Homo sapiens: one gene and its partners. The protein of the gene in region 1 interacts with the protein of each later gene in a pairwise test. Each region holds a gene or a part of one and is shown in the gene's direction. Other genes may lie near its edges.

Region 1 (8,231 bases):
ATTCTAAAATGATTAAATGGGCTGGGAACAGTGGTTCATGCCTGTAATCCCAGCACTTTGGGAGGCCGAGGCGGGTGGATCACTTGAGGTCAGGAGTTCAAGACCAGCCTGGCCAACATGGCAAAACCCCGTCTCTACTAAAAATACAAAAATTAGCTTGGTGTGGTGGCGGGCATCTGTGATCCCAGCTACTCCATAGACTAAGGCAGGAGAATCGCTTGAACTCAGGAGGCAGAGGTTTCAGTGAGCCAAGATTGCACCACTGCACTCTAGCCTGGATGACAGAGTGAGACTCCATTTCAAAAAATATAAAATAGAAATAAAAATTAAATGATTAAATAAATTATGGTACGTCTGCTGAATGGTGTTTCATGCTATCATTTATTTATTTATTAAAATTTTTTTGGAGATGGAGTCTCGCTCTGTCGCTCAGGCTGGAGTGCAGTGGTGTGATCTCGGCTCACTGCAACCTCCACCTCCCAGGTTCAAGCAATTCTTCTGCCTCAGCCTCCCAAGTAGCTGGGACTACAGGCACATGCCACCATGCCTGGCTAATTTTTTTGTATTTTTAGTAGAGACAGGGTTTCACCGTGTTGCCCAGGCTGGTTTCAAACTCCTGAGCTCAGGCAATCCGACTGCCTCAGCCTCCCAAAGTGCTAGGATTGATTACAGGTATGAGCCACATCGCCGGGCCGCAATCATTTTTTTAAAATGCAGCAGTCTGTATTTACCTACATGGAAAGGTGCCCAAGACATTTGTTAATGGAAAAAGAAAAAAAAAAGCAAGATTCAAGAATAGCATGCGTAGTATGAACCCATTCATTTACAAAAAAAGTAAATTATCCATTTGTTAAGGCTTGGAATGCAAGTGACAACAATGCTGCTCAAAATAAACCTCACCAAAAAGAATGTGGGGAGGGATTTTCTAACTTAGTCTCTTTCTATCACTTGGTTTTGCTTTCTTTTGTGGTGACTTCACTCTTAGGCAGGCTGTCTTCAAGTGGTGGCAAAGTGAGCACCAGTTTGGCTGACATCCTGATAGCTGGCAACCTCAGCAGAGAGGGCCTCATTCTCAATTGCTTTAGCAAAAATCCTGGGCTGGGCTGGGCACAGTGGCTCATGCCTGTAATCCCAGCACTTTGGGAGGCTGAGGGAGGAAGATCACTTGAGGTCAGGAGTTTGAGGCCAGCCTGGACAACGTGGTGAAACCCCGTACCTACTAAAAATACAAAAATTAGCCGGGCATGGTGGTGGGTGCCTGTAATCCCAGCTACTCGGGAGGCTAACGCAGAGAATCACTTGAACCCAGGAGACAGAGGTTGCAGTTTGTGGGGTGCAATTGTGCCGCTGAACCTCAGCCTGGGAGAGAGAGTGGGACTCCGTCTCAAAAAAAAAAAAGTCCTGGGCTGAAGCCAATCAGGATATGTGCTAACCACTGAAGCACACAGACTGTGAGTAGGGAAGAAAGGCTTCCCAAAAGAAAAAGGGTGTCCAGAGGGAATATTTCATAGCAAACACTTGTTATCGTTTTTGACTGCCCAGCATCTGAACCCCCTTCCTACATTTGGGAGTGCCCTACCTTCTGAAGCAGAAACTACCTCCCGCTATTATATGAGCACATGACCCAAGTTGGGCCAGTCAGGCACTGTCACCTCAGCCTCTGAATCTGAAGCCAGGAACACCAAAAAGGGCCTGAACCAACCCCATCTTCCTACAGGGTGCAGCTGCGGCATGAGATTTGGGTCATTGTTCCTGGCTTTGGGGCCTCCAGAACTGGTTCTCAGGCTCTCATGGATCTGTGAGCTACAGAAGAACCTTGTACTAAATCCTGCAGCTTTTCCAGCACCTAAAACAGTGTCTGGAAATGGCAGGCACTCAATACATATTTGTTGAAAATGGAAAGAGAGTTGGACTCGATGTCAGAAGACCTGAGTCCTACTCACAGCTCTCCTGCAGAATAGTTGTGGAGTCTTTGGCAAGACACAACCTCTTTGTGCCTCGGTTGCCTCCTCTGCAACCTAGGGATGATCATCTGGGCCCTCCCCGGTGGATGGCAGGCGTGCAATGAAGATCAAACGTGGGTCTCCAACTTTAGCATGCATCAGAATCACCCAGAGGGCTTGTTAAAATATAGGTTGCTGAACCCACACCCAGAATTTCTGATTCAGTAGATCTTGGGTAGGGCCAGAAAAATCTGCGTTTGTAACAGTGTTGCAGCTGGTGATGGTGCTACTGCTGTGTGGGACACACTTCAAGGACCGCTGATAAAGAGAGAGAAGGTATTTCATTTTCTTTGTGACCATTGTAAATGAGGTTGTGTTCTTAATTTTGTTCTCAGCTAGAATGTTATTGGCATATCAAACTGCTATTGCTTTTTATACATTGATTTTCTGTCCTGAAACTTTACTGAATTTGTTTATCATTTCCAGGAGCCTTTTGGCAAACTCTGTAGGGTTTTCTATGTATAGATTCATACTCTCCGCAAAGACAGAGTGTTCGACTTTTTCTTTTCCTATTTGAATGCCTTTTATTTCTTTCTCTTACCTGGTTGTCTGGCTAGGACTTCCAGTACTATGTTGAATAGGAGTGGTGAGAGTCTTCTTCCAGCTTTTGCCTGTTTAATATGATGTTGGCTATGGGTTTGTCATAGATGGCTGTTATTATTTTGAGGTATGTTCCTTCAATGCCTAATCTGTTTTGAAGATTTTTATTATAAAGGGATGTTGGATTTTATTGAAGGCCTTTTCTGCATCTATTGAGATGATTATATGGTTTTTGTTTTTGATTCTGTTTATATGGTGAATCACATGTATTGATTTGCGCATGTTGAGCCAACCTTGCATTCCAGAAATAAAGCCTACTTGATCATGGTGAATTGACTTTTTGATGTGCTGCTGGATTCTGTTTGTAGTATGTCATTGAGGATTTTTGCAGCTATGTTTTTCAGGAATATTGGCCTGAAGTTTTCTTTTTTTCGTTGTGTCTCTGCAAAGGGCATGAACAGACACTTCTCAAAAGAAGACATACAGGCAGCCAACAAACATATGAAACAAATGCGCAACATCATTAATCATCAGAGAAATGCAAATCAAAACCACAATGAGATATCATCTACACCAGTCAGAATGTCAATTATTAAAAAGTCAAAAAACAATAGGTGCTGCTAAGGCTGTGGAGAAAATACACTGTTGGTGGGAATGCAAACTAGTTCAGCCACCGTGGAAAGCAGTTTGGAGATTTCTCAAAGAACTTAAAATAGAACTATTTGACCCAGCAAACCTACTACCAGGTATATACCCAAAGGAAAATAATTCATTCTATCAAAAAGACACCTGTATATTCATTGCAGTGCCATTTACAATAGCAAGGGTATGGAATCAACCTAAGTGCCCATCAACAGTAGATTGGATAAAGAACATGTGGTACAGAGCCAGATGTGATGGCTCACACCTGTAATCCTGGCACTTTGGGAGGCCACAGCAGGTGAATCACTTGAGCTCAGGACTTTGAGACCAGCCGGACAACATGGTAAAACCCTTTCTCAACCAAAAATACAAAAAATTAGCCGGGTGTGGTGGCACTTGCCTGCAGTCCTAGCTACTCGGTAGGCTGAGGTGGGAGGATTGCTTGAGCCTGGGAGGCAGAGGTTGTGGTGAGTAGAGATTGCACCATTGCACTCCAGCCTGGATGACAGAGCAAGACCCTGTCAAAAGAGAGAGAGAGAGAGAGAGAGAGAGGGAGAAAGGGAGGGAGGGAGGGAGGAAGGAAGGGGGATAGGGAGGGAGGGAGGGAAGAGAGGGAAGGAATGAAAGAAATGTGGTGCATATACACGATAGAATATGATGGAATACTACGGAATACTATGCAGCCATAAGAATGAACGAAATCATGCCCTTTGCAGCAACATGGATAAAGCTGGAGGCCATTATCCTAAGCGACCTAAAAAGAACAGAAAACCAAATACTGCATGTTCTCACTTATAAGTGGGAGCTAAACATTGAGTACACATGGACACAAAGATGGGAACAACAAACGCTGGGGATCGCTAGGCCAGGGAGGGATGGAGGGGACTCTGGGCTGAAGAACCTCTTGGTGGGTATTATGCTTACTGCCTGGGTGACGGGATCGTTGGGACCACAAGCTTCAGCGTCGCGCAATTTACCCATGTAACAATTTACCCATGTAACAAACCTGTACCCTTTAATCTATAATAATAGTTGAAATAAAAGGTGGGGGAGAGAGAGAGAACAGGAGGCGCTTTTAGCCCCAGCAGCCTGGCCCAGATGAAGGAGCGACATTAAGGGCACCGCAGGACACTGTGAGGAAACAATCCGTTCGTTCCTTAATTCAGCCGCTTCCTTATTCTAGAAGGGCAGGTTCAGTGCCAGGGGCTGCGGTGGGGTCAGCGGAGCCCGCTAGTAAAGTCAAGGCCCACGCAGCTGCGGACTCAGACCCGGGCCCAGGGCCCTGACCACAGCGTGAAGAGGGGATGGCGTGGCCGCTCCCACCTCTGCCCTGACAGGAAGTTTCTGGAGCCCCGGGACAGGGCGGCGAGAGGGCGCCGAAGAGGCAAAAGGGAACACGCGGGTCTGCGGCGGGCGCTCCTCTGAGCGTCCCTGGACTCCCGAATACGGGCACTGGAGGTGCGCAGCCCCGGCCCTAGCGCGCTCCCGGCACACAGCAGGCGCGCGGCCCTAGCCCCGGCGCGCTCCCGGCACACAGTAGGCGCGCGGCGCGGGCGGGTGGCCGGAAGGGGGCGCCTGCGGGCGGTATCCGGGGGCGGAGCCGACGCGGCCGGCGGGGCGGACGGGAGCGGGCCGCGCGTGGCGGCGGCGATGGGCGAGGGCGGGCTGCCCCCGGCCTTCCAGCTGCTGCTGCGCGCGTGTGACCAGGGCGACACGGAGACGGCGCGGCGGCTGCTGGAGCCGGGGGCGGCGGAGCCAGCCGAGCGCGGCGCGGAGCCGGAGGCGGGCGCGGAGCCGGCGGGGGCCGAGGTGGCCGGGCCCGGGGCCGCAGCGGCGGGGGCAGTCGGGGCTCCGGTGCCCGTGGATTGCTCGGACGAGGCGGGCAACACCGCACTGCAGTTCGCCGCGGCCGGGGGCCACGAACCGCTGGTGCGCTTCCTGCTGCGCCGCGGTGCCTCGGTCAACAGCCGCAACCACTACGGCTGGAGCGCGCTCATGCAGGCGGCCAGGTGAGGCGGCGGGGCCCGGGGGCCCGGGACCAGAGTGGTGCCCGGCGCTGGCCCGAGACGCGGTCCCCGGCGGCCGGATGCCCCGGGAGGTGAAGAGTTAAGGACTCCTTAGAGTTGGAATGGTAAACTTTGAGTAGTCTTTTGTAAACTTTGAGCATAGACGTGGAAACACTTTTGAATTAACATAAAATCAGATTCTTAGAAATTTTGGCCTTTCAGAATAGAATCTGGAGACAGCGAATAGAATTGTAGAGACTTAGAACCTTAGAGATTTAATTCATTTCTTATTGCAGTAAGAGTTTCCTCAGAACCTGCCTTCCCTTCCTGGCTTGGCGTTGAGGGTGCTGCGAGACCCAGGCAGAGTCCCCACCCAGGGCATTGGTGGGCAGGCCAGGCAAAGGAACGAGCTTGACCGGAAAGGTTTGAGTAGCTGTGGGGCAGGTGACCCATTTTGGAGACGTGGGGGAAGGTTTCTGGTAGAAAAGATGTTTATATCCACGTGGAGACCTGCGGATACCTGAGAATTAGCCAGGACATTACAAGTGGGCTGTGGGAAGGCATGATGGGAGGCCCATGCAAAGGCTTGGGTGCACGAGCTGGTAGGACTGGTAGAATGAGGTATGCGTAGAATGTATGAGTAGAATGATGTACTAGTCCTCCCTGGAGAGAAGGCAGATGCCAGGGAGTTGGGGGAGTGTGGGAGCTGAGAAACGCTAGCTATCCTAGGGTGCTAGGGAGTCATGGAAGGTGCTAGGGAGTCATGGAAGGTTCTAGGCAGAATGAGTGACAGGATGAGAGTTACGTTTTGGAAAAATTACTTTCCTTGAAGTGTGAGAATAGATTAGATACTCTAGGGTAAGCTAGAGTCAAAAAGGCTGGTTAGGTAGAGTTTGCTGCAGTCTGAGTGAGAGGTGATGGTGGCCTAGACCAGAATGGAGACAGCGGAGGGAGGGCACCCAGATGAATTTGTGATATATTCAGGGAGTAGATCAGCAGGAGTTGACGACTGGCCCTTGGGGAGGGGTTAAGAGAGACAGCAAGGATGGCATCTAGAGATCTGGCTTCTGTGAAGCCTGCCATGATATCTCCCTGTTCTCTGGTCCCTCCGCAGCAGAAAGGCCTCTGTGGTAGCATCCATCACACCATGTTAATGCTGACTGGCTTCCTCAGTACCCAAACCTGGCCACACATCAGAATCACCAGGATGCTTGTCTAAGTGCAGATTCCTGAGTTCCTTTTCTGGAGATTGTGATTTAGAAGGCCCAGGGCAGTGAGGGGAGTAAGAGACAGGGACTCTGTGTGAGAAGAGGCTCCCCAGTGATTCTCTTGTATGGTAGGTTTGGGAGCCACTGATGTGTTATGTGTGTCTCATCTCTGCAATCCACCAAGTGCGTGCACAGGGGCCCTGGTGAGCCCCCTGAGGAATTTACTGAGTGAGGTTTGTGACTACAGCACTGACATGCCTCAGAGTGTCTCAGAGACCCCAGATCATCAGTTTTAACCAAGTTCTGCAGGATAGTCTTGAGCCTGGGTATTTTAAAATGTGCTGTTCCTCAGTTGGTGTGACACCGACTCTATATTCAGGTAGCATCTCTGCCTGTGTTGAGTTGTGCTCCAGCTTTCTGCTGCGTAATTCATAAGAAAAGGTCAAGTTGAGGAGTAGTATATATGGAAGACTTCCAGAAGGATGTACAGTGTGTCTGTCCCTCACATCGGGGTAGGCAAATGAATGGCCTGTGTGCTGACACCTTCCAGCCTTGTGCTCTTCTTCCTTGGATCTGGATACGCCCCCAGAATCCTGCTCAAAACCACACCCCTGGCAGCCACCACGCTGGGTCTGAGCAAGCATCTATTTATCGTCCCAGCTCTCTGTGTGGATCAGGCCAGACTATTAGACACCCTGTGCCTTTGGTCTTTTGTGGGTGTTTTAGTATTAGAAATGGTGACCTTAGTGTTTTTTCCTGTTCTTTTTTTTTTTTTTTTTGAGACGGAGTCTCGCTCTGTCACCAGGCTGGAGTGCAGTGGCGTGATCTCGACTCACTGCAACCTCCGCCTCCTGGGTTCAAGCGATTCTCCTGTCTCAGCCTCCGGAGTAGCTGGGATTACAGTCACGTGCCACCACGCCCAGCTACTTTTTGTATTTTTAGTAGAGACCGGGTTTCACTGTGTTGGCCAGGCTGGTCTCAATCTCCTGATTTCGTGAAACGCCCACCTCGGCCTCCCAAAGTGCTGCGATTACAGGCGTGAGCCACCGCGCTGGGGCATGTTTTTTCATGTTCTTAAAATAATAGGTAACCTTTGGCCAGGTGCGGTGGCTCACGCCTGTAATCCCAGCACTTTGGGAGGCCGAGGCGGGCAGATCAGGAGGTCAGGAGATCGAGACCAGCCTGGCCAACATAGTGAAACCCTGTCTCTACTAAAAATACAAAAATTAGCTGGGCGTGGTGGCACGGGCATGGTGGCACGCACCTGTAGTCCCAGCTACTCGGGAGGCTGAGGCAGGAGAATCGCTTGAACCTGGGAGGCGGAGGTTGCAGTAAGCTGAGATCGCGCCACTGCACTCCAGCCTGGCGACAGAGCGAGACTCCATCTCAAAAAACCAGAACAAAACAAAACAAAAAACAACCTTTATTGAGCACTGACTTTCTGTCAAGCACTGTGCTAAGTGCTTTAAATGAATTAAGTCATTCAATCCATACAAAACCTTAGGAAGGAGGTACTATTGTCATCCTCATTTCATAAATGAGGAATTGAGGAACAGAGAAGTTAAATAACTTGCTCAAGTAACATAGCTACCAAGTGGCGAGTCAGATTCACACCTAGGGAGGTGGCTCCAGAGCCTGTGCTCCCAGCCATGAATCCTGTAACTGATAGTTTCCCTCTTGGTGTTGGTGCCTGGAAGCGGCTTGCCAAATTTGCCAGAGACTTCTCTCCAAGGGACAGGGTTGCATAGTGTTTACCTTCCTTCCCTACCCTTCATTTCCTGCCTGCCAGTGGGGCAGAGCTGGACTCTCAGCCCAGTGCTTTGAGAGGGGAA
Region 2 (8,032 bases), on another chromosome or scaffold:
CAGGCACTGTGTGGAGCGCTTCCCACACCTCTCCACCTCCCTGTACCACTGGATCCACACAACAACACTGAATCAGGCAGTATTGCCCTTCTTTGCAGAAGAGCCAACAGCTGTTCTGAGAGGTCAGGTGACTTGCCTAAGGTCACTAGGTTCTAAAGTCATGGAGCCAGGATCAGATCCACCTGTTTGCCTCCAGTACCCACGAAGTTAACCGCTGCACAACTCTGCCTCCCATCCTTGGCAGCCCTGACTGGTGTCCCTGGGCCCCGGCCACCCTGGGGGATCTCACTAGCACGTGTAACAGGCCACCAAGTGTTTGCACAGGACTGGTAGGAGTTTATTCCATTTCTGGGAAGTCCTACCCCGCCATGGGTCCTCTAGTGGCAAACAAAGGGTTTAAGTCTTGGTCTGCATGCCCTGCTGGTTTCTCTTCAGCCTTTCCTTCTCCAGGTTAGACTTCCTCATTTCCATCTGCCCTCTACGGCTCTTCGAGATCCTGACGGTGTAGCACAGTGGACAGAGCACAGGCTTTGGGGGCAGGCAGGTCTGCATTCAAGGTCTTGAGTAGGTTTCTGTGTGACCTTGAGTAGGTTTCTGAACTCTCTCAGTATCTATTTCTTCATTGTAAAAAGAAGTTAAATACAGTCCCTACCTCCTAGGATGATGGATCCATGGTCCAGGACGTAGTCTAGAATTAGGGTTACAAATTCAGGCTGGGCCAGGCGTGGTGGCTCACACCTGTAATCCTAGCACTTTGGGAGACCCAGGCAGGTGGATCATTTGAGGTCAGGAGTTCGAGACCAGCCTGGCCAACATGATGTAACCCCACCTCTACTAAAAATACAAAAATTAGCTGGGTGTGGTGGTGCTCGCCTGTAGTCCCAGCTATTCAGGAGGTTGAGGCACCGAGGATCACTTGAACACGGGAGGCAGAGGTTGCAGTGAGCCGAGATCGCACCACTGCACTCCAGCCTGGGCGACAGAGCAAGACTCTGTCTCAAAAAAACAAACAAAAACTCTGGCTGGATAGATTGATTCTGACATTTGTGTCTGGGCTCTGTTGTTTGTAAGCTTTATGAATTGGGCCAATTTACTTAATCTCTCAGAGCCTCAGTTCTACCCCATACAGTTACACGGATGACATGAGTTAGGGGCAGTGCAGTGTAGATGCATGGCAGGCTGGTGCTTGTCAGTAGCAGGAGTTGCTGCTGTCGTTGATGATGCAGGATCCCTGCCCCACATAGGTATTTAACAGTTAGTAAACGGATACTTACAGTGACCGTCCAGATAGATGCTTGTCTCTGGCAGTTGAGGCACCCCCGTGGGACAAATGGGTACTGCCTCCGTTTCGCAGAAAGGAGCCTGAGGCCTTGGCGCCTGGACCAGCACCCAGGTTTCCTGTTCCAGCATAGCATCCTGGGACCCTCTGCTGCCTTGGTCCATTGACCCCTGTCTGGGAAAGAGCTGGGCGGCCTCCCCTGGGCTGAGCACTGTAGTGAGAGTCCAGGGGCTCAGGTCCGTCCTTCCTGCCCAGCTGGGAAAGGTCCTGGCCCTGCCACCCGTTTAGCTCAGGTTCCTTCCCTGCTTCCAGCTCCTCTTTCAGGCCATACCTGAGAATCCTGTGTCTCTTTGGCTACCAGGAAGCTCCCCCAGGGCCAAAAGACAGTGGTTTTGTCCTGACAGTTACTGGCCCCTCTTTCCCTGGGCTGCCAGGAAGTGCAGGGCCCGTTTGGCTCAGTTTCTCCCTGGAGTCTTCCTGCACATTAAGGCCTCTCTGGGTGTCCTCCTGTTACACAGATGAAGAAACTGAGGCAGGGGAGGCTTAGGCTTCTGGACGTTTCTTTTCCCAGGGGCTTAAGAGGAGCAACTGGTGCTAACTTTGTTCATATTTATCAAACCAAAGTGACGTCACGCAGAGGAGACTGTGTGTGTGCTAAGGATCTGCAGTATTTCCAGGTTACGTTGTTTTCTTCCCTAACAGAGATGGCAGAGGTGTGGGCCCAGCTGGGTGCTCACTCTGTATTACAGGCCCTTCCAGCGCTAGGAAAAGCCTTTACCTCATAGGTTGTAAGCATGACCCTTAGGGTATCCTGCGGATCAGAGGCCCCCCTGGGACTCAGCCTTTCATGCTAACTGCCATTCTTTCCGGAATAATCCAGGGCTCTGCAGGGCCCATTTATTAAAGACCTACTCTGTGTACAGTCTAGGCATAGGAGCGAGAGCATTGAAAATGAAGATCATTTCCAAAACAAGCCCAGAGTGGGAAGAGTTAGGTGTCGATTTTGGGGAGGAAAGGGGTGATGGGAGCTACCTTCCCTCTGTCTCTTTCCTCGGTGTCTTCTTTAAAAGCTGGATGTTGGGACCACTGTGGCTGACTCTGCGGTGTGGCCCTGAGCAAGTTCCTTCCTGTCTGTGGTCCAGGGTTTACTATCAGATGGAGGGGACAGTGGTTAGCTCTGAAGATAAAGATCAGAATCGTCCTCATGCCCAGCCCTGCCTGCCCCCAACTTCCTGTCCCTCCCTCCTCCACTCCCCTCACCTTCCACTCCAGCCACACTGGCTTCTGTTCAGTTTCCAGAAAGTTCCACGCCCCCCTTCTGCCACAGAGCCTTTGTGAGTGCCGCCCCTCCTGCTCAAAATGCTCTTCTTCCCCCTCAGCCTCCCCCATCCCTTCCTCAGAGAAGCCCCTGACCACCCCAACCCTCCCAGCCTCCCTGCTGTTCAATCAGGTGCCCTTTCCCTTGCTTTCCTTCAGGATGCTTTCCTTCAATCAGGTGCTTTCCTTCGGGATGAGGGTTCACTGCACCTCCATTCCTAGGGCAGAGTACCTGGTTAGCGAGGTCAGTACTGAGAGCGCAGCTCCGAATCTGCTCTGCACACCTCTGACTCCCCAGGGTGAATGAAAAGCAGGTGCCAGTGATGCTGGGTGACACTAAATGTTTAAGAAACTTAACACCGTTTATCACTTCAAGCCCCTGGGGATTGAAATCCATGGAAGACTACACCTCTCTTGCCTCAGTTTCCCCATCTTTGTAATGGGGAGAGGCCTAATGGCTGGACAGCACAGCCTGGGTTTGAGTCCTGGCTCTGCCACTGGCCTGCTCTGTGACCTTGGGCAAGTTACTTCCTTCTGAGCCTCAGTTTTCTCAGCTGTAAAATGGGGATAATAAGACCTCAGAGGATTGTAAGGATTTAGTGCATTTATATACAGAAAGCACTTAGAATGGCACCTAGCACATAGGAAGCGCTCAATAGTAGACGAAGGTAGGTGAGGTGATGGCGAAGATTCCTTCTAGAGCTAGACTTCTGTAACACACTACTCAGCCTGGTCAGAGTCTCGAGATCTTAAAGTTGGGTGCATCGGTCCTTACAGAATTATTTTCCTAGTCTCTTGGAGCTGAGAAAGGAATTTCTTTTGGGCCACAGAGCCAGGCCCCTTGTGGTTCACTCTGGCCCTGGGCCCTGGAGGTAAAGGTGAAGTATCTCAGCCACCAGCTCTGGATTCCATCTGCCCCCATGTGTGGACCTTTCTCACAAGCCCAAACAGTTCCCAGCTGAAGGCCTGCGCCCCCAGCGGGGAGGTTGGGTGCACTGGTTTTGGAGGCGAGTTTGAAATTTAATTCCAGTTTTGCCACTTGCTACCTGTGGAGTCTTGATCAACATAATTTATCTCTGAGTCTGGTTTTCTCATCTGTGAAATGGGAATAATAGTACCAGAGGCTGCTGTGAGGTCCAGATAAGGTCATGTGAGACGGTTGGCATAGGGCCTGGCACATAGTTGGTGTGTGGTCAAGAGTAACTCTTCTAGAAATGCTTTTTCCTCTGCTGCCAGAGTGAGTTTGTCTGTCTTTCTTTTCTGTCCTTTCTTTCCCTTCTTTCCCTTCCTTCGTTCCTTCCTTCCTTCCTTCCTTCTTTCCTTCCTTTTCTTTCTTTTTCTTTCTTTCTTCCTTCTCTTTCTCTCTTTCTTTCTTTTCTTTCTTTCCTTACTTTCTCTTTCTGGCAGGATCTTGCTCTGTCCCCCAGGCTGTAGTGCAGTGGCATGATCTTGGCTCACTGTACACTTGACCTCACTGGCTCAAGTGATTCTCCCACCTCAGCCTCCCAGGTAGCTGGGGCTATAGATGTACTCCACCATACCTGGCTAATTTTTTGATTTTTTGTAGAGATAGGATCTTACTTTGTTAGCCAGGTTGTTCTCGAACTCCTGGGCTCAAGCAGTCTTCTCCCTCCACCTCCTAAAGTGTTGGGATTACAGGCGTGAGCCACCAGACCTGGCCCACAGTTCTTTTTTGCAGGTGGTGAGGGCTCCTTCTGCCCTTCCACCCAGGCCAGAAACCCCGGCCTTCTTCGCAAACCTTGCCCATGTCTGCGCCAGGACACTGCCTCTGCCCCAGGCATGTGGCATCTCTCCCTTCCAGCCTGACCCCTCAATCCCTTGAGTAAACTTCTAGGGCCCTCATTGACCACCAGGCCCGTTGAAGCTCCCAATTTGGGGCTCCTGGCCTCCCAAAGTCTCTGTGCCACCCCACCCCGACCTCAGTTATCTCCATGCCCACCGCCACCCATGCAGGGCCTGGGGCTTGGCCCCACTTTGCCTGGCCGAGCCCCGCTCATACATTGTGCTCAGCCTGGGTCCCTTCCCTTTGGAAGCTCTTTCTGCAGCTGCCTGCCCTCCCAAGGCATCTGTCTTTTCTTTTCTTTTTTTTTTTTTGAGATGGAGTCTCACTCTGTCACCCAAGCTGGAGTGCTGTGGCCCATTTTGGGCTCACTGCAACCTCTGCCTCCCAGGTTCAAGTAATTTTCGTGCCTCAACTTCCGGAGTAGCTGGGATTACAGGTGCCCACCACCATGCCCAGCTAATTTTTGTCTTTTTAGTAGAGACAGGGTTTCGCCATGTTAGCCAGGCTGGTCTCGAACTCCTGACCTCAAGTGATCCACCTGCCTTGGCCTCCCACAGTGCTGGGATTACAGGGGTGAGCCACCGCGCCCAGCCCATCTGCCCTTTTTCTTTCTTTCCTTTTTTTTTTTTTTGAGGCGGAGGTTTGTTCTTGTTGTCCAGGCTGGAGTACAATGGCGCGATCTCGGCCCACTGCAACCTCTGCCTCCTGGGTTCAAGCGATTCTCCTGCCTCAGCCTTCTGAGTGGCTGGGATTACAGGCATGTGCCACCATGCCCGGCTAATTTTGTATTTTTAGTAGAAACGGGGTTTCTCCATGCTGGTCAGGCTGATCTCGAACTCCCGACCTCAGGTGATCTGCCCACCTCAGCCTCCCAAAGTTCTGGGATTACAGGCGTGAGCCACTGTGCCCAGCCTCCATCTGCCCTTTTTCTATGTGCTTTCCAGTCAGGGCCTTGTTGATGTCCCGGAGTAGAGACCAGTTCCAGGAGAGGAGGCTGTCATTTTAAGGACACAGAGGACATTAAAAAGGGTAAAATATTGTAGCTGGGTGCAGTGGCTCCTGCCTGTAATCCCAGCACTTTGGGAGACCAAGGTGGGTAGATTGCTTGAGCCCAGGAATTTGAGACTAGCCTGGTTAACATAGGGAGACCTTGTCTCTACAAAAAAACAAAAATTAGCTGGGCGTGGTGGTACACACCTGTAGTCCCAGCTACTGGGGAGGCTGAAGCAGGAGGATCACTTAAGCCCAGGAGTTTGAGGCTGCAGTGAGCTGTGATGGCGCCACTGAACTCCAGCCTGACCCACAGAGCAAGACCCTGTCTCCAAATTTAAAAAGAAAAAAGTAGAATATTGCAGAAATCCAGAAAAATAGCCAGGGGGATTTTGTTGTTGTTTTTCCTTACCATAAGGCATACCAAGCTATCTCCCTGTAGAAAAGTCTCAGTGGTGTCCCTCGTTGCACTTGGCATGAAGCCCACGCTCCTTCCCGAGGCCCTCAGGCCCCCCTACCTGTCCCCAGCTACCCTCCCTTTGCCCGCTCTCTCCAGCCACAACAGCTGCTTTCCCCTCTGCCCCCCACAGTGCGCCAGCTCCAGTGTCCCAAGAAATCACCCTCACGTGAGTCCCCACCGCTCCGCTTCCCATCGAGGCCTCTTCTGATTTCAGAGCAGATTCCCTGCATTCCACAAAGGAGCCTCCCACCCTTGTGTTACAGGAAAGGGGTCCCAATCCAGACCCCAAGAGAGGGTTCTTGGATCTCGCACAAGGAAGAATTCAGGGCGAGTCCATAGAGTAAAGTGAAAGCAAGTTTATTAAGAAAGTAAAGGAATAAAAGAATGGCTACTCCATAGGCAGAGCATCCCTGAGGGCTGCTGGTTGCCCTTTTTAAAAAAATTAATTAATTAATTAATTTACTTATTTTTGAGATGGAGTTTCTCTCGTCGCCCAGGCTGGAGTGCAATGGCACAATCTCGGCTCCCTGCAACCTCCACCTCCCAGGTTCAAGCAATTCTCCTGTCTCAGCCTCCTGAGTAGCTGGGATTACAGGCACACACCACCATGCCCGGCTAATTTTTGTATTTTTAGTAGAGACAGGGTTTCACCATGTTGGCCAGGCTGGTCCTGAACTCCTGACCTCAGGTGATCCACCCACCTCGGCCTCCCAAAATGCTGGGATTACAGGTGTGATCCACCGCGCCCAGGCTGGTTGCCCATTTTTATAGTTATTTCTTGATAGTATGCTAACCAAGGGGTGGATTATTCATGCCTCCCCTTTTTAGACAATATAGGGTAACTTTCTGACGTTGCCATGGCATTTGTAAACTGTCATAGTGCTGGTGGGAGTGTAGCAGTGAGGACAACCAGAGGTTACTCTCGTGGCCATCTTGATTTGGGTGGGTTTTAGCCGGCTTCTTTACTGTAACCCGTTTTGTCAGCAAGGTCTTTATGACCTGTACCTTGTGCTGACCTCCTGTCTCATCCTGTGACTTAGAATGCCTTAACCATCTGGGAATGCAGCCCACTAGGTTTCAGCCTTATTTTACCCAGCTCCTATTCAAGATGGAATTGCTCTGGTTCATACGCCTCTGACGCTTGGAAGGGGTGTGGGTGTCAGCTGCCCCATGGGAGGGGTGAAGGCATGAAGCGGCCCCTCCCTGGCCTGGCCTGCTTTCTTCCTCCTCCTTCACTCCTGGGCCACCTGCAGTTGCTGGTGTGCCTTTTCAACAGACATTACTGAGGCCCTCAGAGGTGCCAGGCGCAGGGGCGTCCTGTGTTTTCTGCACCCGACGCTTTCCTGCCCCTGTGGTGGTCATGTTCACAGACCTCTTCTCTCCCCCTTGTTGTGCCACAGGTGATTCTCCTAGGTCACTGGCTGCTGACAACCTGGTAAGTGACTCTGTGGGTATCTTGTGTGTCTCCTGCGGTCTCAGGGTCTGTGTCAGCCGGGTCAGGTCCTGGTTCTGCCGTGTTTTAACCAGGTCACTTTGGGCCAGACAGCTCTGCCTCTCCGGGTCTTGATTTCCGTCTGTACAATAGGCATAAGGATTGCACACCCTGCAGGAGCTGGGAGGGAGACGTGGAAGTGCTCATCAGAGCTCCCCAGGGCCTGCCCCACAGTGAGGCCTCAGCACTGCAGCTTGATTTTCACCTTTACCATCTCTTTTAATCTGTTGAGCTTCTGGAGACATTTCTCTGCCAAACCAAGACTGGAAACCATTGAGCTCACCTGTGCACTTTGCAAACTTCGAAGTGCAGCGCACAGGGCAACAGCTGTGAGTAATGTGAACTGTAACCATCATGATTCACGACCTTGAGAAGCAGGGCCAAAATACAGATTTCTTAGTCACACTTCCCCAAGATTCTGAGTTGGTGATTCTGGGCTGGGACCCAGGCACCTGCTTTCTTAAAAGCAAAAGATAAGATGGTTTATTCAAAGACCTATTGAACCGAATGGCACTCCACACCTGCCTTGCACATGTCTTCTGCATGTTACACTTTAGTGAATGTCCTATAAATCTAGGAAGCGCCCGCTGCATGCAGGGGAAGGCAAGGCCCAGTGGGTTTGGTAATAAATGAGGTAGACTCAGTCCCTGTCCCCCTGAGTCTTCCTTGCAGCACAGCAGGGTGAGCAAG
Region 3 (8,032 bases), on another chromosome or scaffold:
AGGCTGGTCTTGAACTCCTGACCTCAAGTGATTCTCCTGCCTCAGGTCCCCTACCAGAGTAGCTAGAATTAATAGCACAAGCCTCTACACCCAGGAACTCACTATTGAATACATAAATGGAATTTATTCAGCCTTAAAAAGTTTGGAAGGAAATTCTGACATATGCTAAAACATGGATGAACCTTGAAGACTTTATGATAAGTAAAAGAAGCCAGTCATAAAAGGAAAAATATTGCATGATTCCACTTATATGAGGTACCTAGAGTAGTCAATTTCATAGAAACACAAAATAGAATGGTGTTTGCCAGGGCTTTTGAGGAAAAGGGAATGACAAGTTAGGGGACAGAGTTTCAGTTTTGAAAGATGAAAAAGTTCTAGAGATGAATGGTGATGACAGTTCATTAAGTGAATTACTTAATGCCACAGAACTGTATGCTTAAAAACGGTTAAAATAGTAAATATATGTTATATATATTTACCACAATAAAAATTTATTGACTATATATGTGTGGCTCTATTTCTGGACTCTATGTGTCTTTCTTACATCAATACCATAGTAATCACTATCCTGAGTACTACGACTTTATAGTAAGTTGTGAGGTAGTGTAGTGTATATCCTTCAACTTTGCACTGCCTTTTGAAAGTTCTTTTGGCTATTGGAGGCTCTAAGCATTTTCATATAAATTTTAGAATCATCTTGTCAGTTTCCAGCAAGCCTGCTAGAATTTTGGTTGAGATTATATTGAACCTATAGATGAATTTGGGGATAATTAACATCTTAACAATATTTGGTTTTCTGACCCATGAGCATAGTATATCTTTTTATTTATTTGGGTACTTAATTTCTCTCAGCAGTGTTTTGTAGTTTTCAGTGTCCAGATGTTGTATTTTTTTCTTTGTCAAATTGATCCTTAAGTATTTTCTTTTATTTTTTATTATTATACTTTAAGTTCTAGGGTACATGTGCACAGTGTGCAGGTTTGTTACATATGTATGCATGTGCCATGTTGGTGTGCTGCACCAGTTAACTCATCATTTACATTAGATATATCTCCTAATGCTATCCCTCCTCCCTCCCCCCACCCCATGACAGGACCCGGTGTGTGATGTTCCCCACCCTGTGTCCAAGTGTTCTCATTGTTCAGTTCCCACCTATGAGTGAGAACATGCGGTGTTTGGTTGTCTGTCTTTGCGATAGTTTGCTCAGAATGATGGTTTCCAGCTTCATCCATGTCCCTACAAAGGACATGAACTCATCCTTTTTTATGGCTGCGTAGTATTCCATGGTGTATATGTGCCACATTTTCTTAATCCAGTCTGTCACTGATGGACATTTGGGTTGGTTCCAAGTCTTTGCTATTGTGAATAGTGCCACAATAAACATATGTGTGCATGTGTCTTTATAGCAGCATGATTTATAATCCGTTGTGGGAAGTCAGCGACCCCGAATGGAGGGACTGGCTGAAGCCATGGCAGAAGAGCATAAATTGTGAAGATTTCATGGACATTTATTGGTTCCCCAATTTAATACTTTTATAATTTCTTACACCTGTCTTTATTGCAATCTCTGAACATAAATTGTGAAGATTTCATGGACATTTATCACTTCCCCAGTCAATACTCTTGTGATTTCCTGTGCCTGTCTTTACTTTAATCTCTTAATCCCGTCATCTTCGTAAGCTGAGGATGTATGTCGCCTCAGGACCCTGTGATGATTGCATTAACTGCACAAATTGTTTGTAAAGCATGTGTGTTTAAACAATATGAAATCTGGTCACCTTGAAAAAAGAACAGGATAACAGCGATGTTCAGGGAACAAGGGAGATAACCATTAGGTCTGACTGCCTGAAAGCTGGGCAGAACAGAGCCATATTTCTCTTCTTACAAAAGCAAATAGGAGAAATATCACTGAATTCTTTTTCTCAGCAAGGAACAGTCCTGAGAAAGAGAATGCATTCCTAGGGGAGGTTTCTAAAATGGCTGCTCTGGGAATGTGTGTCTTATATGTTGCAGATAAGGGATGAAATAAGCCCTGGTCTCCCAGGCCTATTAGAACGAGGAAATTCCTGCCCAGTAAATTTTAGTCAGACCAGTTGTCTGCTCTCAAACCCTGTCTCCTGATAAGATGTTATCAATGACAGTGCGTGCCCGAAACTTCATTAGCAATTTTAATTTTGCCCCAGTCGTGTGATCTTGCTCTGCCCCCATTTGCCTTGTGATATTTTATTGCCTTGTGAAGCATGTGATCTCTATAATCCACACCCTATTAGTACACTCCCTCCCCTTTGAAAATCACAACAAAATCTTGCTGGTTTTGCGGCGTAGGGGGGCATCACAGAACCTGCCGACACGTGATGTCTCCCCCAGACACACAGTTTTAAAATTTCTCTCTTTTGTAGTCTTTCCCTTTATTACTCAGACCAGCCGACACTTAGGGAAAATAGAAAAGGTCCTATGTTGAATTATCGGGGGTGGTTCCCTTGATATAATCCTTTGGGTATATGCCCAGTAATGGGATGGCTGGGTCAAATGGTATTTCTAGTTCTAGATCCCTGAGGAATCGCACACTGACTTCCACAATGGTTGAACTAGTTTACACTCCCATCAACAGTGTAAAAGCGTTCCTGTTTCTCCACATCCTCTCCAGCACCTGTTGTTTCCTGACTTTTTAATGATCGCCATTCTAACTGGTGTGAGATGGTATCTTATTGTGGTTTTGATTTGCATTTCTCTGATGGTCAGTGATGATGAGCATTTTTTCATGTGTCTGTTGGCTGCATAAATGTCTTCTTTTGAGAAGTGTCTGTTCATATCCTTCGCCCACTTTTTGATGGGGTTGTTTGATTTTTTCTTGTAAATTTCTTTACGTTCTTTGTAGATTCTGGATACTAGCCCTTTGTCAGATGGGTAGATTGTAAAAATTTTCTCCCATTCTGTAGGTTGCCTGTTCACTCTGATGGTAGTTTCTTTTGCTGTGCAGAAGCTCTTTAGTTTAATGAGATCCCATTTGTCAATTTTGGCTTTTGTTGACATTGCTTTTGGTGTTTTATTCATGAAATCCTTGCCCATGCCTATGTCCTGAATGATATTGCCTAGGTTTTCTTCTAGGGTTTTTATGGTTTTAGGTTTAACATTTAAGTCTTTAATCCATCTTGAATTAATTTTTGTATAAGGTGTAAGGAAGGGATCCAGTTTCAGCTTTCTACATATGGCTAGCCAGTTTTCCCAGCACCATTTATTAAATAGGGATTCCTTTCCCTATTTCTTGTTTTTGTCAGGTTTGTCAAAGATCAGATGGTTGTAGATGTCTGGTATTATTTCTGAGGGCACTATTCTGTTCCATTGGTCTATATCTCTGTTTTGGTACCAGTACCATGCTGTTTTGGTTACTGTAGCCTTGTAGTATAGTTTGAAGTCAGGTAGCGTGACGCCTCCAACTTTGTTCTTTTGGCTTAGGATTGTCTTGGCAATGTGGGCTCTTTTTTGGTTCCATATGAACTTTAAAGTAGTTTTTTCCAATTCTGTGAAGAAAGTCATTGGTAGCTTGATGGGGATGGCACTGAATCTATAAATTACCTTGGGCAGTATGGCCATTTTCACAATATTGATTCTTCCTATCCATGAGCATGGAATGTTCTTCCATTTGTTTGTGTCCTCTTTTATTTCGTTGAGCAGTGGTTTGTAGTTCTCCTTGAAGAGGTCCTTCACATCCATTGTAAGTTGGATGCCTAGGTATTTTATTCTCTTTGAAGCAATTGTGAATGGGAGTTCACTCATGATTTGGCTTTCTGTTTGTCTGTTATTGGTGTATAGGAATGCTTGTGATTTTTGCACATTGATTTTCATAATTTCTGATGCTACTAAAAATGACATTTCAGATGGTGTTTCAAAATTTTAAAATGTCATACTTATTGCTAGTATAAATATCATTTTGTAAATTAACCTTGTATTCTACAATCTTGCCAAACCCACTTAGTTTTAGTAGTGTTTTTATATATCCTACTGGATTTTCAACATAGAACAATTATGCTTTCTGCAAATAAAGACAGTTTTATTTCCTCCTCGTCTATGTTTGCCTTTTATTTTTTATTAGCTTATTGCTCTGATTAGAACATCCAGCACAATATTGAGTAGAGGTGGTGAGAGGGAATATCCTTGCTTTGTTCCTGATCTCCTTTAGGGGAAGCATTCATCTTTCATATTATGTTTCATTTTCATTGCATGTTGTTACTGTTGTTGTGTGTAGATTTATCAGGTTGAAGAAGTTTCCTCCTATTCCTAGTTTGTGAAGAGTTTTTATCATTAGCTGACGTTGGATTTTGTCAAGCATTTATTTTGTATCTATTGAGATGATCATTTTTTTTGGTCTGTGAATGTGTTGAATTATGTTGATTTTGAAATTTTAAACCGTCGTTGCATTTGTGATATGAACCCTACTTGGTCATCATGTATTATTCTTTTAAAACATTGTTAGAATCAATTTGTTAAGAGTTTGTTAAGAATTTTTGCATCTATGTTCATTAGAGGTATTGGTTGGTTGATAGTTATGTCTTTTTCTTGTTGTGTCTTTATCTGGTTTTCGTGGTAGGTTCATACTGGCCCTGGATAATGAGTTGGGAAAGTTCTGTCTTTTTTAGTTTTCCAGAATAGTTTGCATAGAATTCTTATTTTTTCTTCATTAAATGTTTGGTAGAATTGACAACTGAACAAATCTAGTCCTGGAATTTTCTTTGGGGGATTTTTTAAAAATAATTTTAGACCCACAGAAGGGTTGCATAGATAGTATAGAGAGTTCCTATCTACGCTTCACTTAGCTTCTGTTAATAAATCTTATATAACCATGGTACATTTGTCTGTAGTGATGTTCACTCTTCCATTCCTGTTACTAATTTATGCCTTCTTTCTTTTTTTCCTAATCAGTCTGGCTAGAAGTTTATCAAGTTTTAATTTTCAAAGAACCAGCTTTTCATTTTGTGTTTTTCTATAAGTATTTTGAAGTCTCATGTTACTTGATAGATGAAACAGACATAGCTCCTGCTTTTTTTTTAACCTGTAGTGGGGATCATTTTAATTCAGTACTTTTCAGATTCTATTTCACTTTATAGTTTCCTCATTTAATGACTGCTTTTCTTTGTTTTTCGGTTGACCAGCTCTTGTAAGTTCTTGCCTAGTTTTTAGGAATGGCCTCTGGTTCAGAATATTAGTTTTCTCTATGAAATTCAATGTTTAACATCACTTTGGAATGGAATACTGTTCCAGTATTCTGAGGCTTAGTTGGAGCTTAAAAGACTTTAAGGAAAAAGCTTAGAGGAACTAAGGCAAGATGATATATTCACACTTATACATTATGTTAAATAAGTTTCAGTAAACAGTTTTTTTTTCCAAAATTTTTTTATCAATTGCTGTATTTTTTCACCTCCTTTAGAAATTGCCATGTCTAGAAATCTAAGAACCTGGTTTCTTTTGAGTTTTGTAGTTTATGTCTTATTTATTCTGTATCTCCGGAAGAATCATGATTACTTTAAATAACCAAATGTTTTCATTTCAAGAATATTAAAATGGATTGGTTAAGGTGTGATATACACTCAACTACAATAAGGAGATAATAATCTGAGTAATGTTAAAATTTTCTTAATATCTTGCATTTCCCTTTTGCTATGTTGATAAGTTTAAGATGAATAATCAAAAACATACTTAAAATTGTTAGTGTCTTCAATGAATTTTTCTCTATATCCATCTTTGTCAATCGGCAGTTCACTTTGTAGTTTCCTCATTTCATTATAGTCTAAATTCAAGATGAATTGCGCTTTTAGTTCTACAGTTGACCATAAAGATATTAATATTCACTAGCAGTTAAGTAGTTAGGATATTTCAGAGTTTAATGATCAGAACAAATTCTGTGTAAGTTTGTTATATAAGATAATATAAACCCTAATTTCTCTGAAAGTTTTAACATGCAGAAGAATTAGCTTAATTGTGGCTAGTAATAAGTGCCAATGAAGTAAAGACATGATTACCTATTATTCAGTTTCACCAGTATCAGTAAAATGTGGTCCCTTATGATAAATAACTGATCCATGTTTAGAGTTCAGCTTGATTGTTTGTATTTGTGTATACTTTCTATCTTTTTTTTGTTTTGTTTTAATCCTGTCACTACTAATATGTACTTGGTATGTACTTGTTTTCAGAAGGGGACCATCTGGACCAAGATTTGGACCTAGAAATGATAAAATTAAGCAGTAAGTTTTGTTCATTTGTTTAAATGATAATCATATTTCTGTGTAGACTAGAGATTGGCAAACTGCAGCCTGTGAGCCAAATCTGGCTGCAGCCTGTTTTTGTAAATAAAGTTTTATTGGAACATAGCCATGCCCATTTGTTTTCATATTATCGATAGGTACTTTCAAGCTACAATGGCAAAGTTGAGTAGTTGTGACAAAGCTGTGTCACATTTTATGGCCCACAAAATCTAAAATATCTGCTGAGTGTCTGGTCCTTTACAGAAAAAGTTGTTGACCCCTGATGAAGACTAAATATAACTGCTGGGTTATAAAAACCTAATTCATTTTATTTTCTCAGAATTATAGCTAAGGAAATGCAGGATTGTTGGTTTTTTTATGACTTGATTACCTTATGTCAAATCCATTTATTTAGCATAGTCTGAAGGTCTATTTTGGTTTTAAATCTGTAGCTTGATTCCTATTTTCAGAATGATAACAAAGGTAATATAATAGCTTTAATTTGTTGATGTACTGCATGTTTTTATCTACTTCCAGAATTTTTTCATATCTCTTATTTATCATAACCCATATATTGAACTAAGTTTTATGGCTAATTTGTGGTTTAAAACCTTTGAGGTATATATTATTTGGTGATAGATGAGTATAATATGCTGTAATCAATGTGTCTGATATCGGAAAGATATGAGTCCTGACTGGAGGGGAGAAGGAATAGACAGAGCAGTGAGTCACTTGAGGGAAGGCTCTGGAAACTGACCAAGCTGTAAAGACTAACTGTGGAATGTGAACTGCATGGCCCAGGTTCAAGACCTAAGGAGGGATAATAGTCACTACCCTAAGCCTGGGTATAGATGGCACATTGTGGGAAGGGTTCTATAATGAAGTATCTAGTTATTGGTGAGATACTTGGGCTTTACTCAGGTAGCTGTTGGTGTGAAGAAATATTTCCATACTTAGCCTAATTCTAACTAATGGATTTTGAGATATGGAACCAAAGAACCAATAAATGATTACAGGTACTAGACTGGGTGTATTAGTTTTCTATTGCCATGTAACAAATTACCATAAACTTAGCAGCTTAAAACAACACACATTTATCATCTCACAGTTTCCTTGGGTCAGGAGTTCAGGCACTTCTTAGGTGAGCCTTTTGCTCAGGTTTAACAAGATGGCAATCAGGGTATCACCAGGTATGACCAACTCAGGAAGTTATCAGAATTTATTTCCTGCAGCTATAGATGTCATGGTGCTTCTTTGAGGCCAGTAGAAGAGAGAATCTGTACTGTTTCAAGTCTCTTATTTGACTAAAGATACAACAAGCCACTTTTAGATGCAATTTATTACTTATATAGTAAAAGGAAGAGTAGCCAAAGTTAGTAGCTCTCAGGGTCATTGTCCTGCACACCAAAAATAATGATACAGCTGGGTGCAGTGTTTCACGCCTGTAATCCCAGCACTTTGGGATTCTCCTTCAAAGGAGGATTGTTTGAAGCCAAAAGTTTTGAGACCAGCCTGAGCAACAAAGTGAAACCCCCTTCTCTTAAAAAAAAAAGGGGAGGTCAATGGCTGCAGTACAAATTGTGGGATACTCTATTGCAAAGGAGCTATTTCTAGGCTGTGGTTTTTATAGTCTGCACATAGAGCCTGCAGAAAGTTTATACCGCATCAGAACCTGGGAGGTGATAAGAAACTGCCTTATGATAGTCTCATAAGGGAAACAGGGAGGTGGATGGAAGAAGACCTCATGAGCCACTCATTCTCTCATGTTCCAGGGAGATCACAAGCATTCTACC
Region 4 (8,032 bases), on another chromosome or scaffold:
ATTACTTATTGGGTAAATGTTATATACTCAGAACCTCAGCCACACAAAATAAGAAGACATTCTTTCTTTAAGTATCTTGGCCCTTATTAAACTACAGTTTGCACAGAGTATCATTGGTTAACAGAGTAAGAATGCATTTTTAAATGGTGATTTTAATATTTGACTGAGCGGAAAAATATGCCCACTCCTTGAGTTCTTTTATAATAAAACATGTGGAGAGCTTCATGGATAGTGTGTCATGGATAGTGTGTCAGCAGCAAAATTCAGATAGTACAACTCTCTTCTGTTTGGAAAATACTTCTTCAATATTTTGTTGTGGTTTTTGTGGTGGTGGAGATTGCATAGGTATCTGCTGCATATAAAGTACTCATTAGGTACAGGGAGGATATGGAAGCATGAGATACTGTCTTTGCCTTCAGAGAAGCATATGATTCCATTCTGGACAAAGGTATGCACATTCAAAGTTCAATAACAGTGAACTCAGATTCTTTTCATTAATTAGTTCACATCATGTATTCATTGAGTGTGCCTTACAGTGTGTATGTGTTTGTAGGTTTATGGGGGGACATACAGTGTTGAGTCAAACAAACTTATTCTCTTCCCTTATAGTACTGTACAGAGTGCAATATTAGTGTTACATACAATCAGAGCTGTAAGAAATCAGTGAGAGTTTTGCTTCATAGGGAAAATGAAATTTCTATTGTGCCTTGAAAGAAGTTCCTATTCACACCTTGACTGTCCTTCAGTGATCAGTGCTGTTACCTCCTGTCACTGCTGCTGCATCTGCTCATTGAGCATATGGAGACTTCTAGTTTTGTTTGTTTTTAATAGATGAGGTCTTGCTGTGTTGCCCAGGCTGGTCTCAAATTCCTGGCCTCAAGTGATCCTGCCTCCCTCAGCTTCCCAAGTAGCTGGGATTATAGGTGCAAGCAACTGTGTGCAGCAGGCTCTGAGACTTCTAGTTTTGATATCATTCCTTTCCCCACATTCTCAAGTCACTGTTGAATCTGCTTTAATATCTGTCCAATCTAATCCCCATAATCCAGATCTTCAACCGCTCTTTTGGCAAGCAGTCTCAACCTCTTGGGGCTCCGTTTTTCTGCAACCTCAATATTATAAGCTTCCAACTATAGATTAGTCCAACCATCCACCTTCTCCTGGACTAACTCAGGCCGATGAACTCTTCTGCAGAAAAAAACCACACACCTGGGACGATTGAAGCCACCGTAGTATATTGCCTCAAACAAGTTTGTTTTATCTTTAGTAATCCTGTGCAGTCCCGGTCCCTTTCCTCCATCATTCTCCTTACTGTATATTCTGAATGATCACCCATTCTTCAGCAGATAGCCCGTTTTCTCCCTTTACTGAGAAAATTGATGGCAACAATTATGTTAAAAAAAAGTTCACGCCTGTAATCCCAGCACTTTGGGGGGCCGAGGCGGATGGATCATGAGGTCAGGAGATCGAGACCATCCTGGCTAACAGGGTGAAACCCTGTCTCTGCTAAAAAATACAAAAAAAAAAAAAATTAGCCAGGTGTGATGGCGGGCACCTGTAGTCCCAGCTGCTCGGGAGGCTGAGGCAGGAGAATGGCCTGAACCTGGGAGGCGGAGCTTGCAGTGAGCCGAGATCGCGCCACTGCACTCCAGCTTGGGCGACAGAGCGAGACTCCACCTCAAAAAAAAAAAAAAAGTATAGTTAACTAACACCCTGAACTATGCCGTTTCCTGTTAATCGCCCAACATATTTATATATGTATTCACTAAGGCCCACTCCATCTGTTGTTTGATAGCCTGATGACTATGAAGTACTATATTAGGCAGGGAGGTGTACATTCTTATCCCTTAGAGTTCCATAAAAGTAGCACCTAGAAAGAACAGTGGATCTGATACATGGTAATTCTTCAAATATATGTTGAAGAATAAATGAATCTCCCTCTTGACTCTCAGCTAGCATTCTGCATAAGTTATTGTGTCTCTTTCCTAGAGCTTCAGTTTGCCCCCTCCCTGCTTTGGCTCTTTCCTGTCCAACTGTCTATTTAAGAGAAAGAGATGCCAGTAAAGAACCCTCGCCGCTATGAGCTCCCGTCCTTCTGTATTAACCACTTTTCCCTTCCTCTTCACAGCCACGCTTTTTCAATGGGTAGATGATGTTACTGCTTTTAGAACTTTCATTAAAATATATGTTTCTCTTGAGCAGGGAATGTATCCTGAATATTCTTGTGTATTAGTACCTATTTTTGTATCTTCTGGACAATCAATAAGCAATCCAGAAATGTGTATCAAAATGAACTGAACTGAATATTCTTTGGTTAACAGAGAGTAATGGAAAGAATTGGTCTGATCTCTGTTTGGTTATTTATTTTTTAAATTCATTTGGAGTATGAATATTAGAGACATATGTGGTTTGCAAGGCCCTCCAGGGGTCTTTTTCAGTTCTTTCCTAACTAACAGTGTTTCAAAAGTGGCTTCTCTAGAACCACCTTTGTGACTCTGATCCTTGCAGGTGAAGGAGTACCTCCTGGCAACTATGGGAACTATGGCTATGCTAATAGTGGGTATAGTGCCTGTGAAGAAGAAAATGAGAGGCTCACTGAAAGTCTGAGAAGCAAAGTAACTGCTATAAAATCTGTAAGTATATAACAAATATTATATGTGTTTTAATTCATATATTTCTATACATATAATTATAAACTATATATTCTTATTGACGTCATCCTAAGGAATTCATTTACTCAGATACTGTGGTTTTGTGAGGTCAAAGTACACTCAAAATTTAGACTGTGCTTTGAGTAAGTTAAAAAATGTGGCACATCAAAAGATAGATTTTTTTTAATACTTAAGAAAAATCTCCAGCTCTTTTTTGTATACTGTATGCTGTCTGCTGTAATGTCTCAAACAGAGCTGTCCATCTTCCACCCCCAAGTAGCTCTTCTGCTTTTTTTAATCTAGCCTTCTAAGCTATAAATCTTGGTCTTTCTTATTTCTACCTTTGTACTTCATTTCAGTCACTGAGTCTTACACTGTCTTTCTGATGTTTCTATCTTTGCCTTTCTATTTCTAATACTATCCCCTGGTTTTCTTTTCTTTTCTTTTTTTTTGAGATGGAGTTTTGCTCTTGTTGCCCAGGCTGGAGTGCAATGGTGCAGTTTTGGCTCACTGCAACCTCTGCCTCCTAGGTTAAAGCAATCCCCCTGTCTCAGCCTCCCAAATAGCTGCGATTGCAGGTGCCCGCCACCACACCCGGCTAATTTTTGTATTTTTAGCAGAGACAGGGTTTTACCATGTTGGCCAGGCTGGTCTTGAACTCTTTATCTCAGGTGATCCGCCCGCCTTGGCCTCCCAAAGTGCTGGGATTATAGGTGTGAGCCACCGCACCTGGCCTATCCCCTGGTTTTCTTAGTTGAACTATTGGAAGAACATCTTAACCTATCTGTTCCTGTTTTTTTGCACATTATGATCTGAGCTATATAATCATTGCCACAGTCCTCGTTTAGAATATTTTAAAACTTGCATCCTGCACTCCCAGAAGTCTTCAGCGTCCTTCCATGATTTAATAAAGTTCATGCTTCGTAGCTTGATTAAATCAGATAGATCTTTCAAAAATTGGCCTTAGCTTTTGAGATCTTATCTCTCACACTTCCAGAATCTGTATGTGCTTCCTGCTAGACAAATTACACTTTGTGTCCTCTGTATGCTGTCACTTTCCCACCCCCATATCACACTATCCCTTTGCCTTAAGCCTCCACTTCCTTCTTAGATCAACTGAAGTGCTGCTTATCCACATCCGCCCCACTTCATTGCACCCCCTCCCTCCAAACTTTTACCTGATTACCACATCCAAAAGTAACTTTTCTTCTTATGAACATAAGACCATTTGTGCCATTTCTGTAGCACTTATTCATAGTGATTTGCATTGGCATTATTTGTATGTAAAAGGAATTTACCAGAATGCAGGTTTTCTATTGTACTTACTTTATATTCTATATAGCACTTAGCATAATTCCTTATCAATGGTGTTGAGTAAATTTGTATTGAACCAAAGAATTACACGAAGATGATTTTAATAATATATGTGATTGATACTGCATTATAATGAACATGACGTTCACTTATAAAGCATTCAGTAGAAGCCCATGTTGATAAAACTTAATTGGTATTTCAATATAGTCTTTGGAAAATCGAATTACATTCAGTCTGGAGACCTTTAGATTTTGAAACAGGATTGTTTTCAAAGTCATATTAAACTAAAGTTGATTTATGAACTAAGTAATATTGTATAATGTTAATTTTAAAAATACAACACTTGGAAGGACTTAAGAATTAAATGCCTTTAAAAACCCCCCCAATGTAGATAATTTAGATTACTTGTTAGAAGAAAGTTGTGATGTCCTGGAAATATTTTTCCTTGGCATGAATGACAGTGATAGAAGTTGAGTAATGTGGGCAGTCTAGCTTTATAGTTACTTTATTATCTCTGAGTTGTTAAATCTGGGAGGAAAGCTCATGTTCTGATCTATAGAATTCTAGTATGGTTTTGTATCAGTATTATCCCATGTGCTTTCACACAGATGAAGAACAATATTTGCAGTGATTTACCAAGATTTTCAGTAGATGATTCTATTTATTTAAATATCTTGGAAGTGAAGCCTTTGATGAATCTGTCCTATAAAGTATTAGATAGATTTTGGTTTGAATAGTTGTCATAATTAGCTATAGTATTGTATTTTGTAAGCTATGGCTCTTTTCTTCAGAGCTTCAGGAAGTAAGTAACACTAATATTTATTTTTTTCAATTTATTATCATATTTTAAAGCAAAAACCTTTAAACTAAGGAAAAATCAGTTTAGACATATTTAAAGTAATGTAACATTTCATTAGGAAAATATTAAATACTTCTGTCTAGATTTGAATTGGTTGTATGGGTACTTCTAGATCTTTCAAAATGTAATAAGGTTGGGTACTAGGCTTAATTCTTGGTTGACGAAATAATCCGTACAACAAATCCATGTGACATGAGTTTAACTGTATAACAAACCTTCACCTGTACCCCCAAACCTAAAATAAGTTAAAATATATATATATAATTTATAAAATATAATAAATAAAATGTAAGAAGGAAATATACAGATATTTGTAGGAATTTGTAGCTTTTGTAGGAATATAATAAAGATATAAAAGCATACAAGGTTAAGAGAATCAGAGAGAAGTAGTACATACCAAATTAAAAGATGGAATTGAATATTAAGATGAAATTAAAATAAAGAGGAAAGAAGAAATGTCCATAATTGGGAGGAGTAGAAATTCCAAATTTATTTTTTATTGATCTTGGTAGAAAAAGTATCAGAAAAAGAGAGTTTATGTGTCTAGAAGACCGTTTCATTTCAGAAAATGTGTATGCTTAGAATGACATTATTTTTACTTTATAACACTTGAATACTTTTATGTGAGTAATCCTGTGTATACCTTCTTCTTTATAGCTTTCCATTGAAATAGGCCATGAAGTTAAAACCCAGAATAAATTATTAGCTGAAATGGTAAGTGGTTATGATTTTAACTTTAAGAAATTTGATCTAATATTCGCAAATAATAGAATTTCAACTTTTATTCATTTTGAAATACAGAGATCGTAAGTCCTTGATTCCCGTCCATTTGTATCTAATGTGTTTGGAATAACTATAAGGTTTATTTTGCCATGCTTTTGCATTTTTCATCTCGTCTTACGCATGTAAGTGGGAGGAACAAGTGGAAGCCAATATATCTTTAATCCTGTTTTTAGAATGATTGTTAAAAACAAGACAAATGACTATTTTGAGTAGTCTTAGAAGTCTCAATAGTAGAGACTACTAGTAATTTATTAACCAAGCAATCAAAAGGCACTTGATATCCAACCAACTAAATGTCGTTCACTTAATGGATACTTACTCTTTTGCTTGATTTCCTAAGGATCACTTATGAAAAAAGTGCTCATACATTTGAACAGCCCAGAGCCTTTTCTCTCTAACAACATATACCTTTTCTTGTTAGAGTCCCCTTCCATTTGTTAACGTTTATCTTGAATGTCAAGCTTCTCTGAACCTTCTCTGGTTCCATGTGCTTTTAAAATTGTGCTATTCAAAAATGAATTTGGCATCAAAAGCAATGTTCTTGCTAAGCTTGTGCGCTATAATAAGCTAGGGACCTCTTTAAAAATGTATATGCCTGATTCTGTCTTTAAATATACTGATTTAGAATTTCGTGAGGAGGGATCTAGATGTAAATATTTTGAAAAAAGCATCTCTGGTGATTCTGATGCATAACCATGAAAAAGCATCTCCGGTGATTCTGATGCATAACCATGGTGAAGATCCATAGATCTAAAGTATATGAGCCACATAGACACTGAGCTATACAAAGGATATTTATTATTATGCCAGGGCTTTTACATCTCAGGATATTATAATTTCTATGAAAGTATGTGTAATATTTCTAGTCCCTACCTAAGCCTCTCTCATCTTTAGGATTTTCCAGCTATGTTTTAATACGTTAGTTTTTCCCCATCCATATTTATAGTCCTTATCACATTTTACTACCTCTATATGATATTCTCTTAACTTAATAGACTCTACTTCAAAGTCAGCTGTCTAAACAAAAGGATATTAAAAGTAAAGGTCCAAGGCCTAGCATGGTAGCTCACGCCTATACTCCCAACATTTTGGGAGGATGAGGTGGGCGGATTACCTGAGGTCAGTAGTTCAAGACCACCCTGGCCAACATGGTGAAACCCCATCTCTACTAAAAATACAAAAAAATTAGCTGGGCGTGGTGGCGTGCGCCTGTAGTCCCAGCTACTTGGGAGGCTGAGGCAGGAGAATCACTTGAACCTGGGAGGCAGAGATTGCAGTGAGCTGAGATTGCACCACTGCACTCCAGCCTGGGCAACGAGCGAGACTCCGTCTCTAAATAAATAAATAAGTAAATAAAAGTACATTTAACTGCTAACCGTATTACATTTTGGATGAAATCCTCTACTTGGGTAGCAGTCAACCATTTGACCTTGGAGAGCAATGGCACAACAAAAAGTGGGGAAAAAAATCTGTGTGATAATGCACAAAGTACTTACATTTATTGTTAATTTTTTTTATCCACATAATTGGAATAACACCTAAATAGTTTTGAGTTGTTGAATTACTCTGTGGAGCTGAAAGAAGTGTTTATTGGACAATGAAAGAGCTTTTTATTCGCTGAGAGTATTACTGTATTTTGCATGGAGAAATCAGGCTGATTATCCAAGGTTATCAACAGGCTCCTGAATTGATTAAACACAAAACTGTCATTACAAATGTACTATGGTAACAGTTATTCAATTACTTGGATATGCATATGTAGACTCTTAGAATCTAACTGTGATATTTTATTTGCCTTTATCTCTGATAGGATTCACAATTTGATTCCACAACTGGATTTCTAGGTAAAACTATGGGCAAACTGAAGATTTTATCCAGAGGGAGCCAAACAAAGCTGCTGTGCTATATGATGCTGTTTTCTTTATTTGTCTTTTTTATCATTTATTGGATTATTAAACTGAGGTGATGCATGTAATTGTGAATTTGGAATTTGTTCCAACTTAATGGCTTGCAGTACCACTTTGATAAAAATCAGCATCAAAACATTCCTAGTGTTCAAATACTGTGGCATTTTCCATTGAAAATTGCTGAATTTTGCTTATTTTATAAATCACATTAGTTAATACAGTGGTCTTTGAATACTGTTTCTTAATGACTCATTTTAGCCCCTATTTTCAGGGGTAGTGAGAGGGTGTGGCTCCACTAATTTCCAGTTTGTTTTTCTATTGTTTGCCAACTGTCAGATTAAATAGCATTATAATATTTTGTTGTAATCATAAATGCAGGTTTATGTCCCATGTAAGGAAACTTAGTGGGAGAGTAACAGAATGCCTGGAGAGCCTGACTCTGAGCTCTTGAAGTAGTCAGCCAGTTTGTGGTAAAATGGTAATTGAATTTTCCTAACTGCATCAACTGTAATGATATACTC

What was found.
Region 2: the proteins of ANKS6 (region 1) and AGTRAP interact in binary tests that used the Homo sapiens proteins (3 or more experiments, as listed by UniProt).
Region 3: the proteins of ANKS6 (region 1) and VAMP4 interact in binary tests that used the Homo sapiens proteins (3 or more experiments, as listed by UniProt).
Region 4: the proteins of ANKS6 (region 1) and BET1 interact in binary tests that used the Homo sapiens proteins (3 or more experiments, as listed by UniProt).

The regions. Positions count from the first base shown.
Region 1 is NC_000009.12:98,793,096-98,801,326, reverse strand, and holds the start of ANKS6 (ankyrin repeat and SAM domain-containing protein 6), read left to right. Parts: upstream 1-4,771; 5' UTR 4,772-4,835; coding exon 4,836-5,194; intron 5,195-8,231.
Region 2 is NC_000001.11:11,738,553-11,746,584, forward strand, and holds part of AGTRAP (type-1 angiotensin II receptor-associated protein), read left to right. Parts: intron 1-5,980; coding exon of another isoform or gene 5,981-6,016; intron 6,017-7,250; coding exon 7,251-7,285; intron 7,286-7,574; coding exon of another isoform or gene 7,575-7,671; intron 7,672-8,032. UniProt on the Homo sapiens protein: Appears to be a negative regulator of type-1 angiotensin II receptor-mediated signaling by regulating receptor internalization as well as mechanism of receptor desensitization such as phosphorylation.
Region 3 is NC_000001.11:171,717,378-171,725,409, reverse strand, and holds part of VAMP4 (vesicle-associated membrane protein 4), read left to right. Parts: intron 1-6,188; coding exon 6,189-6,239; intron 6,240-8,032. UniProt on the Homo sapiens protein: Involved in the pathway that functions to remove an inhibitor (probably synaptotagmin-4) of calcium-triggered exocytosis during the maturation of secretory granules.
Region 4 is NC_000007.14:93,993,768-94,001,799, reverse strand, and holds part of BET1 (BET1 homolog), read left to right. Parts: intron 1-2,505; coding exon 2,506-2,630; intron 2,631-5,478; coding exon 5,479-5,535; intron 5,536-7,414; coding exon 7,415-7,570; 3' UTR 7,571-7,889; coding exon of another isoform or gene 7,890-7,906; 3' UTR 7,907-8,032. UniProt on the Homo sapiens protein: Required for vesicular transport from the ER to the Golgi complex. Functions as a SNARE involved in the docking process of ER-derived vesicles with the cis-Golgi membrane.